Homo sapiens: one gene and its partner. The protein of the gene in region 1 interacts with the protein of each later gene in a pairwise test. Each region holds a gene or a part of one and is shown on either strand. Other genes may lie near its edges.

Region 1 (8,264 bases):
TATATCTGTCACTTACCGATGAGGTAAATTTTGGGACATACTTTCAAAGGAATATTCTACAGTCACTAAAATGAAAAAGGAAGCTTTATTTGTACTACTATGAGAAAGTATCCAAGATATAGCATTAGAAAAAAAAAAGATGCAGAAAGTATGCTGCTACCACTTAATTTAGGAACTAATGAATATGTGTGTACATTATTAGCTCCCTCTGGAAAAATAAAAAATATACTAGTATCCTGGTCATACCAGGAATGGAACTGAATAGTTAAGGTGAGAAATGAGAGGGTAACTCTACATCATATATGTCTTCAACATTTTATGTAAATTCATCATGTATTCAAAAATGGATAAATACAATTATTCAAATTAAAAATTGAAATCATAATACATGGATGGCAGAGGTCCCACAACAGGATGAAAGTAATTAATATTACTAGAAATAGCATAAGTCTGCTCAACAGGAAACATCTTCTCTTTGGAACAGAGAACTAGAAAGGGCACAAAACATGCATCCTAATTTTGTTTTTATTATGGCCTTTCAACAAGATTTCAAAGTTTATCCCCAAATATATGGTCAAATACAACGTTCCCTGGGTTGTCAACTAGTATTCTCTTGACTGAGGGCCCTTTTGCAGGGGACAAAGACTTCTTAAAACAACCCTGCTTCCTCACCTTCTATCCTTTGTCTACCAAATCCTGCTCATCCTTAAGATGTCCTGGTTCCTGACTTTCTGAGGCTTGGTGAGATGCCCCTTTTGGGTTGCCATGGCACCAACTTGTTACTCCTACCATTGAACTTTTTATATAACTGTGAAATTAAAAATGCTTATTTACTTCTCTCTACCACCTCTTGATCTCAGGCGCTTCATTTTCCTCATCAACTTATCTTTAGTTCCAACTACAAAAGCCAGCACAGAGGCTCAAGTTTGGGTTGATTAAATACATATTCTACCCTCCAGTAGGTCCCCAATTTACCATATCTTTACTGTATTCCCAATCTCTAGAGCTCTCAACATAAAATATACAATCTTAGGAAGTCATGCAGAAAAGACTCACTGAGTCAGAAAGAATATGCCCAGTTGTCTTAATCTGCCACCCTGTTCTCTCTGAGGGACTGGACACTCCATTGACTTTATGTTCCTCAAGCTTATTGTTACCAGTGGAGGGTGTCCAGGTTCTTGGTATCTTGAACAAAGGATTGGACAAAACACACAAAGAAAGGAAAGAATGAAGCAACAAAAGCAGATATTTATTGAAAATGGAAGTACACTCCACAGTGTGGGAGTGGGCCCAAGCATAGGGGCTCAAGGGTCCTGTTACAGAATTTTGGGGGATTTAAATACCCTCTAGAGGTTTCCATTGGTTACTTTGTGTATGCCCTATGTAAATGGAGATAATATTTCCCGGCATAGCTGAAGTGTGAATAGGCCTTATGTTCTATGCCTCCAGATCCTATTTTCCTGCCTCATTTCCTCCCTGAGAGATGTCATCCCCATAAATCTTTATGGGAGGTGGAGTGACTAATGGTCTTTCTTCTGTAACTGCCTCATGCTGGCTTGAAGCAAAGTCCCTACCTATTGGGGATCACGGAACTGTCACCCTGCTCTGTCTAGTGGAGGCAGAGTAGCTTCTTGATGGCCAGGGGTGGTGTCTTCAACTGGAACTGGCTGGAACATTTGTCACATGATCTTCTGAAGCTTGATGGTCTCTAGGTGAGAGAAAGTGAATTTGGTTAAAAGATTTAACTGGAACTTCAGGAGGTGGATACCTATGCTGTTAAGAATGCTCGTTACAGACATTTGCAAGAGGAAAAACAAAACCTGGTTATTCAATTAATTTTTTTGTTCTACTTAGATTAGTAGCTTTATACAAGGAAATTTGGTTATTTATGTGGTCTACTATAACTTAATATAATAACTATAATTATAATTGACAGCATGTACTTAGACATTAAAAATTTTAGAAATCTCATACAATTTTGGGACATATATTAGCATTATTCACAAAAATATAACCTAAAGATTGAACAACATTTTGGCAATACTATGTACCTAAACATGTTAAATAATCCTGTTTACCTCTTCTCTGGGTGATTCAGGGGCCCCCTGATCCTTCCAAAAAGCCAGGCATCGGGAAAGACAATTTTGAAACTGAAGTTTGATTTTGGGAAGGCTGTTAAATATGTTCGGAGTTTAAAACACTTGATACTATGAAATAGAATTCCAGATTACCATGAATGATGTATTTTGCCAAAAGGTTGACTCAGAAATATTAAAGAAGCAAAAGCCTTTTATAACCCTTTACAAATTTTGCCGAAGAGCAAATTAGTGCCTTAAGAAAACCTTATTGTACTTTTAATGCTCAGTTTACAGAAAAACAATATAATACCTTTCTGAATTTAGTCAATATGTTCACACAGAGAATTTCTTTTGCAAGATTTTTAGAAACCTTCCACCACTTATTTGAACTTTTAGCTTTATCTTAATTTAAAACAATTGTTTAACCCTAGGCAATAATTTACTTTTCCATACCTTCTTATAACGTTTTACAAAAAAAAAAAAAACACATTCTATTCTTCTTATACAATTTGCATGTAAAACTATTTTAGTAGTCTCAATTACATGTAATAATGGTGACTGTTAGTCATTTTAATTTTAATTTTAATGTCTTTTCTTATTCATGTTTTATAAAATAATTTTTTGAGAGAGACTGTCAGTCTGTCACCCAGGCTGAAGTGCAGTGGTGCTATCTCGGCTCACTGCAACCTCTGCCTCCCAGGTTCAAGCGATTCTCCTGCTTCAGCTTCCCTAGTAGCTGGGAGTACAGGCATGTACCACCACACCTGGCTAATTTTTTTGTATTTTTGCAGAGTCGGGGTTTCACTGTGTTGACCAGGCTGGTCTCAAGCTCCTGACCTCAAGTGATCCACCCACCTCAGTCTCCCAAAGTGCTGGGATTACAGGTGTGAGCCACCTCGCCCAGCATTTACACTGCACTATTTTTAGCTGGTTTATATATAACATGTTTCCCTAGGATCAATGCCATCCTGTTTTCCCATTAGAGAATTGACAACACAATTTGCTGGTACATCCTCAAATTTGCTATACCTTCCTTGTATTCTTCATCCTATGCTCACCTTGGAAATGTGGTAGCCATTTGCTTATCTAAAAGAATATTAAAATTTATCTCCCTTGGAAGAAATGGCTATAGACAGGATAGGCACCGGGCTTAAGCTCCCAAAGTGTCAGGAAGCCTGGGTCTCTGTCTTTCTGGATATTTCCATTTCAAAAGGCATGGAGCCCAGACTCTTGAAGACATCTCTGGGTTGTAAAGCTGGCACTGATATTTAGCCCCTAGAAAGCTCTATTTGTATTCAAAAGGTTAAAGAAAGGACTCTGGCCCACTTGTCTCTAAAGAAACACTCTAAAAACAAGCTGGGGTCTGGCATGGTGGCTCACACCTGTAATTCCAACACCTTGGGAGGCTGAGGCGGGTGGATCACCTGAGATTGGGAGTTCGACATCAGCCTGACCAACATAGAGAAACTCCATCTCTACTAAAAATACAAAATTAGCCGGGCTTGGTGGCTCATGCCTGTAATCCTAGCTACTCAGGAGGCTGAGACAGGAGAATCGCTTGAACCCAGGAGGTGGAGGTTGCAGTGAGCGAAGATTGTACCATTGCACTCCAGCCTGGGCAACAAGAGAGAAACTCTGTCTCAAAAAAAAAAAACACAAGTTGGGAAAGTGGGATCTTTTTTTCTTATAAATTTATGTACCCTTAAATTATACATGATTCACAAAGATTCAATTTTGCCTGGGGCTATTTTTTGTTTGCATGATATAAACAATAGATTTTATTACTTAGAAGCAGGTGATTTCCTAGCAATAGTTCTGTTTTGAAATAACCCTGCCTTACTTTCACTTTAAATCTCATCAATATTCACACACACACAGAGAAGTCTTACTCTCTGCTCTCCATTTCTCTCTCTCTCTTCCCCGCTTCCCACCTTCCTCTCTTTTAGAGACAATGTGCAGTAGAGAATCAATGTGGTTTTAACCAAATGGATTTTCAAGTTTGAATCTCGCTCAATTACTTGCTACCTTGGTGTGTAGCTCAATGGCTTTAGTTAGACATATTAATTACCCGTTTTCTGATTATTTTTCCCCCTTGGACAATGGGGATAATAAACAACCTTTATCTTGAGGTATTTTGATATTTAAAATGGTATGTGTAAAGAATATGGCCTAGAATGGAACTGATAAGGAGAAAACATTGTTATTGTACACTCAGCAAACACAGAGGTATTTTAATGAAGTGACTGACAGCAAGACTTCTTGGGCCCAAATCTTATTTAGTAGCTCTGTAATTGTAATAAATTATTAAATCCCTCTTTTAACATTGTGGTAAAAGTATTTGTGATAAGAATACAATGGGATAATCTATGTAAACAAAACGGGTACTATCTTCATTATTATTTATTAAATGTTAAGTGCCAAGACCTGAGTTAGGTGCTAATAATTCAAACATGTATAAGACGTGGACATTCCTTCAGGGCATTTAGAGTCCTCATTATTAAACACAAATAATGAGTTCCATTTTAAGAGTCTAATATTCAAGCCAATTGAACCTAAATAATATTATATTAAGCTTTCTTATTCCTGTACTTCTCAATGTGGCCCACAAACATGAGATGAATGTCATTATTTTAAACGATTCATTGAAGTTTTTTTAATAATCGCAAGCTGTCTCTAAGATCTCTTCCAATAATAAAATTGGAAGATTCTGTTTGAGAAATTATGTCAAATCCTCTCACTAGCACAGCTGTCAGCAATTTCTTTTATTGTTGCTAAATCATGGACTGTCATATTACTCTATTTATTTGCAGAGGTTGCATTGTTTTTTACATGTATAAATACAGGTCTCTAGAAAGTCTGGAAAGCCCCATGACATTGGAGAGGTAAGGTAAAAGTCCAAAGTTCCAGCAAGAAAAAAAGTGGGAGAAATCAGTGCAGCCAAATTCAGAACTAAAGAGAAGAGAATAAAGACTCATAACTTTCTCATTGAAGCTGCCTTCTTACCAAGTCCAGAGGATCTCTACTCTGGGTAAGACTATGACTTATAAGGATTTCATGATTTATAAGGATCCATTAGTTTTCTCTAAGTTGACCATCCCCAAGATAGGCTGCAGCTGAGCCAGCTACAGGATACAAGTCCAGATGAAATCCTGGCCTCTTAGGTGGCTGTGTGTACCTTAGTGTGCTCTAATTCCTGCTGTGTCAGATTAGGCTTCAGCAGAGGTGGAACAGATATTCAGAGAAGCCAGTGTTCTAAGATTGTTATTTCTTTTCTGACACCATCTTAAATTACTGTTATCTTTAAATATCTGCCTAATAGGCTCTGTCACTTTCTTTATTGGGCCCAACATTTATAGCTCTAGGTAAATGAAGGTAGGCAACTTGGGATCTGCAAAAAGAGGCAACACATTATTATAATCCAGGACCTTATAACATCTTTGTGCCACCACCTTTCTGAGCCGGTGACTGATTGATTCCTATGTTATGGTAGCATAGTATATGCTACAGAATTGGACAGACGCATACTCTGTTTTCACTCATCTTCCATAGATACCCAATCTTTTTAGTTTCTGGTTTGCCCTTCTTGCTTGCCAGCAGATCCTGTAGGCCATTGCTATAAGAGGAAATGGGTCATGATCACAGAAAAATAAACGGCTTTTTTTCCATCTTCTGCTGAAGTGATGGGAAGCCAGATAATTTAATATAAACCTCCAGAGGAACAAGTCAGAAGTAACCAACTCTATAGTGGAAACAAACCACTCTTTATTATAGGATAAAAAAGAAAACTGCAGTATCTATCATCTATATTTGCTTGTATCTTAAAGAGATTATATATTTTGTATCATGATCACATAAGTTACAAGGATTGAGACATTCAACTTAAAAACACAAAATTAAAGCATCACTACAAGAAGGCTTTTCACTCCTTTTAACTTTACAAAATTATCAAAATATTTAATTTATCAAGCCCTGGATAAAGATAGCATGATTACAATTGTGCATATGCTACTCTCTATACAGCAGAGATCAGACAAAAAACAAGCCATGGTTTTTCAAAGAATGTTTCATGCTGTGACTTCATTACATGAAATAATTAAAAACAATATGCAGACTGATATACATGGAGGTAATAAAGAATCAATCTTCAAATGCAGAGAATTCAAAATCTGTTAACATAATCAAGTCAAAAATCAACAGAGTAAGTGTCAGGTGCGAGCTATCAGGCTTGCATGAATAACGTGTGAATGCTGATGCACAGTGAGAGGAGGAAGCCATTGGGTAACCTGAGTCCCACAGTCTGACCAGACCCTGCCCACAGAGGGGCTTGCAAGAAATCAGGACCAAGAATGGGTTAGAATGGTATCTATGTTTCAAAGTATAGAGATATGTATAACACAATGTTTCCCAGGTGAAGATTACTACTACTATATACATGAGCTCAGCGAGCTCAGCTTTGCTCAGTCCAAAGATCTAAATGTGAACGTGAAAAGCTTCCAAAGGAAATTTTGTAATTAATTCAGAAGAGCAAGCGGGGCACCTAGGAAAAATTCCATTTTCTAGAAAATGACATACAAGATGAGCTGGTGGGAATGCAACCTTGTACAACTTTCTGGAGAGGAACTTGGCAATATCTACAAAATTATATACTCTCATCTTTTGACCAAGCAATCCCGTTGGTAGGACTCTATCCTGAAATTACTCCTGTAACAATATAAAAATACACATGCATAACGTTAGCAGAGTTATTCATTGCAGCATTGTTTGTAATTGCAAAATATTTGAAACAATCTAAATGCCCATACATTGAAGAGTGATTGAATAAACTGGGGTATAATCCACATAAAGGAGTAGATACATGTTAAAAGGATTTTAAAAGCTTTCTATGAACAGATGTGGAGGGATTTCCAAATTTCTATATGATGTGATCTTCGTGTTAGAAAATGTGAAAAAGAAAATATGTACATTCTCATTTGAGAAAAGAAAATCCAAGAAGCGTAAACCAGAAACTAACAAGATTGGGTATCTATGGAGGATGGGTGGGAATGTGGTAGAAAGAATAGAAGACCACTGCAATGTGAGTGGAGTGGTAAGATGAAGGAAAAGTGACACTTCTCTGACTGTAACTTTTTGAAAAGCTCTGCATTTCAGAACCATGATGTTTCACAAACTCAAAAAATAAATCATACTTAAAATCAACCAAGATACCAAGATGTGAAGGAGGCCAAACTGAAACACAAACAGTAACAAATGTAACTAACTGTTTTACAAATGAATAATTTAACCATACTGAAGAAGGTGGAGAAGGAAAAAGCTAACCTAAGCAACTTTGGAATGCAATGTTTTGAGTGTGTATATAAGGCTAAAGACCAAAAGAACTGTACACTAATAATTTTCTATAGGAAGTAAATTTATTTTTCCACAGACTTATTATCAATTTTGAAACTACTATATGAATATACTAGGACTGAGCAAGGAAACAAATGTATTATGTGTTAGAAGACCAAAGTCTAGCTTACTTGGAGAAAATAGTTTAAAAAGGAAAGTCAAAAGCTTGAATAAGCTCAGATGTGTTGGATTGGAACTGGAAATATCAACAGAATCTCAAGCTTTATTATAGAAATGTACAGATAAAAATAAATATAGATGTGTCCTAGTATACATACATATATTTCTTAACTTTGCCCCTGAGTGGGTCTAGAAATAATGAACACACCTAGAGTGATATATTGGTGTCAAAGTACCATTATCCATTGAAAGAAACCAAAGATACTGGGAGAAATGTTAGATTCTAGGGATAAAGCAGGAAAAATACAGATATTTTTTCTAGAATACGTTGTGGAGCCAAAAAGGAAAGAAGCGCTGAAAATATGATGGAAGCATGTAAAAAAAAAATGGATCCAGCTTGAAGAAGCTCTCAATGACAAAATCTAGGACAAGTTGAGTAACAGAACAAATATTGACAGTAAAGTATTGAAACCCTCAGAATAAAACTAATATCTCTGAGTCTGCATTGATACAAGTAAATGATTAAATGAGCAAACAAAATAAATAAAGAAGGAACAGCCCTTGCTCACGGTAGAACTCCAGTTAATATAGAAAGAATGACTATAATAGAAAATCCTATTTAGTCAAACACCACAAAAAGAATCATCAATAAAAACTAAAAGTAGTGGCTGAAAAAAAAAA
Region 2 (4,287 bases), on another chromosome or scaffold:
GATGTTACGGATGGGGGAAACTGAGCTTCCCCTAAAGGGGTCAGCGGGTACTAAGGACAGAGCTGAGCTGAAAATAAGTTCTTGGCTGGGCGCGGTGGCTCACGTCTGTAATCCCAGCACTTTGGGAAGCCAAGGCGGGTGGATCACCTGAGGTCAGGAGTTTGAGACCAGCCTGGCCAACGTGGTGAAACCCCAACTCTACTGAAAATACAAAAATTAGTCGGGCATGGTGGTGGGTGCCTGTAATCCCAGCTACTTGGGAGGTTGAGGCAGGAGAATCACTTGAACCCAGGAGGTGGAGGTTGCAGTGAGCCCAGGTTGTGCCAGTGTGGGCGACGGAGCGAGACTCAGTCTAAAAAAAAAAGAAAAAAGAGTTCTTGGCCAATTTGGAATCCTGGGCCCTCACCCTCAGATGGTCCAATGAGCCTTCCTGCACTTCACTCAGGCACACCCCGGCCCCACTTCACAGTTTGTATTTTATATATCTCCCACACTAATTATTCAATTTTTAAAATTTAATTTATAAAGAAACTCTATATCCCATTGTAAATGAAAAAAAGCAGTATCACTTGCCATAAATAGAGAGTAACAAAAATAAACACAACAAGCTGTACAATGGTATTAAAGCCTAGCTGGAGACTATTGTCTCCTCAAGCTCTGGGCTTCCTGCCTTCCCTTTCCGTTGATAAGGAAGCTTAGCAAATGTTAGAGAGACGTGAAAGACACAGTAGTACCAAACCAAGACTTGCTCCTGGGTGCAGTTCATAGAATTGAAAGGCCACTGCAAACCAGTCCTCTTCCGGGGTGACTTGATGACTTGATGGTGCTCAGTGCTGTGTTTGGGATGTGACTCAAATCCACTTATTTGTCAGCAGAGTCCCACACTCCTGGAAGCCCTGGCCCAGACGACCTGCTTTAGCTCCCGCAAGGTGTCTCAGATTGTCGTGTTGAGTAGGGAATGGAGGGGGTCACAGGTGCCCATGCCCAGGTGCAGCAGAGAGGGGGAGACCGGTCCCAGAGCAGCCCATCAGCCAGATGAGTCCCCCTGCGCCAGCCGTGGGCCTGTCGGGAATGCAGCTGACTGGGCCACTGCCACGTCAGGCACATTATCTGCAACAACTCCCACTTTGCAGATGAAGAAACTGAGGCACTACGAGTCAAGTCAGTTGCCTAGAGTCCCACAGTATAGCAACTGGCAAGGCCAGGCCCAGAGTCCAGGGCTCTCAGAGGCCCCAAGGGGGAGTCTAAGATAACACACAGGGCAGGAGGGGAGAGCAGTTTGTACTTCCTGCTGTGACCAGGTCAGAGTTTAGAGCATGAGAGGCCTGCAGGGGTGGGGTGCTGAGAGCAGGACGCATAGTGAGTTGTCTGGGACTTGGCTGCAGCTGGGTAAGATGCACTGCCTTCCTCCAGGACTCGGAGGGTTTGGGATGAAGGAGGGAGGGAGAAGGGGTGCCAGAGCCTCGACCTTGCTGAGTGCCCCGTTGGCCCCCTCCCTGCAGCAGTACTTCATCCTCCTCATCATCACGGACGGGGTCATCAGTGACATGGAGGAGACACGGCATGCCGTGGTGCAGGCTTCCAAGCTGCCCATGTCCATCATCATCGTGGGCGTGGGCAATGCGGACTTCGCTGCCATGGAGTTCCTGGATGGGGACAGCCGCATGCTGCGCTCCCACACGGGGGAGGAGGCAGCCCGCGATATTGTGCAGTTCGTTCCCTTTCGAGAGTTCCGCAACGTGAGTGTGGGCCTGGGCTGGGAGGGGGCGGTTACAGGATCCCAGCCACCATAGCTCATAATCAAGCTTGAGAGTCTTGGGGTTGTCTGGCCCAATCCTAGACTTCTCCACTCCATTGACTATGCTCTTCTGAGGGCCTGCCATGTGCCAGGCGCCGTGCCAGGCCTTGCCCCGGTGGTGGCCATTGTGATAGTGTGAGCACTTGCTTCCACAAACTGATGGAACATGGAGCCGTGGGCATCTAGCCTGAGGCTCTGGGGCAGGGCTTCCTGGAGGACCTGCCCTCTAGTGGGGTCTGATGAGAGGCTGGGGCTATCCATGTGGTGTAAAGTGCAGGAGGAGAGAGGGGTTTTCCTGATCATCACGCCCCAGCAAGCCCCCTCATTTTGTAGACGGAAAACAAGGCCTCCCAGTCATCTTAGGTTGACCTCCTCTCCCTAAAGCCCTCTGCCTGGGAGAATGGTGTCCCCAGCCTTGTTCCTGGAAGTGGCTCTGGCTTTATTTGCAGGTGATCCCAGATCTGCCCACAAGGAGGCCGGGGTTGGCCTCCTGATCACTGCCCTAGCAGCAGGGTCCATGAGGAGTCCCATAGGGGAGCAGTCTCTCCACTGTACCGCTGTACTGTAATGCCACCCCCATACTGCTGGCTGGGGGCTTAACCCAGCCTCAGCAAGAACTGCCCATGCTGGTTTGCACCCAGTGGCCCTCACCTCTCTTCCCAGCATCCTCTGGGGTTGCCTGCGATGGTTCTACTCCTTCCTCTGGAGCATTCGCTTCCTAAGGACAAACCCTGGGCATCGGTCACCCCTTCATGCACAGGTCGGTGACCGAGTACCTCCATGTGCCTGGCCTGTGGCTGGCTGTTCACTAGTGAACCATACTGTCAGGCCCATTTATTCCCGCCAAGAAGGTGCTCAGGAGATGTTTGCCGGACACATAGGTGCTTCCCGCAGACGGAGTCATCCTAACCCGTTACTCCCAAGCATCTCAAGTGCTCCAGGTAACACTTACACCTAACCTAAAGGAAGGCACTGCGATCAGGGGGAATTTCAGGCCTGGCCTGGGCTGAGATGAGGGATGCCACTTGCAGACAGCCCTGGCCCGCAGCCCTAATTTTGTCCTCAATGGACACCTGCTGTAGCAGCCCTCTGGGCATAGTGCCGCTCACAACTTCCGGTCATTAATCCTTATTCTCTCTCTTCCCCACCCCACCCTCCTCCACCCTGCAGGCAGCAAAAGAGACCTTGGCCAAAGCTGTGCTGGCGGAGCTGCCCCAACAAGTTGTGCAGTATTTCAAGCATAAAAACCTGCCCCCCACCAACTCGGAGCCCGCCTGAGCTCCAGTGCCCAGCAGCAGCATGTCAGCTGAGCCTCCTGCCCTCCCCCAGGAACATGCACGCTCACTCTGCTTCCTTGTGGGTGGCCTTTTTTTACCGATCCCCTTTTTTATTTTTTACAACCGGACCTCCACCCCCAACTTCCTCCAGCCCAGCTGGGCTTCCTTTGTTGGAGTCAACTGTTGATGCTTCCAGGCCAAACTGGCTTCCTCTCCTCCTCTCCCCACCTTTGCCATTCTTAAGTATTGAATGTACTTTGTATAATTTTAGTGGAATTGTTATTGAGAATAAAATTTTTACAATCATAACTGGCTTTTTCCAAGTAACTAGCTGCAGACTCTGATGAAAGAAACATGTCCTTGGTGCATACGTGTCGTAGCCTGCACCTAATTAATTCCTGCTGTTTTTTTAATACTGTGACTGTGTTCTATTTGTTATATGCTCAGGGTAACAAATGAGTTTCAGACGTCCCTGCGTCAGCTCCTTCCTCAGCAGGGACCTGACGGGCTCACTGATCTAAGAAAGGAAATGGAAAATGAAAATCCACCCCACAAGTCTAATAAGTTGGTGTAGTCACTTCTGCATGGGGACATGCATTCCAGATGATAACCTGTTAAATCACTGCCAGTTAACAGTGATAACCTGTTAAACTGGCACAGAACCTGGCACATTGTACAAACTCAATAAATATTCATGGATGAATAGAATGAATGTGCAGGCCCATACCAGTTTCTGACATATCCCTACCCCACAACTGGACAGCAGTCCCAGCCACCCATCTGCTCCTCCTTGGGTCTCCCGGGTGTTTGGGTTGGCCACCTAGAGGTCTGTGAAAGCCTCTCTGGCCTCAGGACCCAAAATGGGGCTGCTTCTGACCCTGCTGTTTCTTCCACATCCCCCTCTCTAGGCTCAGGCCCAGTTTTATGAAACCAGCCAGAGGACCCCTCTCTGAAAGTTCAGCCCCGCTCCCAGGTCCCTCCTTTATTCCACATAACACCTCTTTCTCCTTTATCCACCTGACTCCCGCTTGGACCTCCAGGTAAGCCCCCTGGACACGGGCTTCCGTGTAACCAGTAACAGCTAACCCTCCTATTAAGCACTTTGTTTCCAGCTCCGTGTTCAGTATTTTGCAGGCACTTTTTCTGAGACAGGGTCTCACTCTGTCCCACCCAGGCTGGAGTGCAGTGGTGTGATCTCGGCTCACTGCAGCC

What was found.
Region 2: the proteins of GBP7 (region 1) and CPNE2 interact in binary tests that used the Homo sapiens proteins (3 or more experiments, as listed by UniProt).

The regions. Positions count from the first base shown.
Region 1 is NC_000001.11:89,172,763-89,181,026, reverse strand, and holds the start of GBP7 (guanylate-binding protein 7), read left to right. Parts: upstream 1-5,023; 5' UTR 5,024-5,106; intron 5,107-8,264.
Region 2 is NC_000016.10:57,144,583-57,148,869, forward strand, and holds the end of CPNE2 (copine-2), read left to right. Parts: intron 1-1,502; coding exon 1,503-1,739; intron 1,740-2,968; coding exon 2,969-3,076; 3' UTR 3,077-3,787; downstream 3,788-4,287.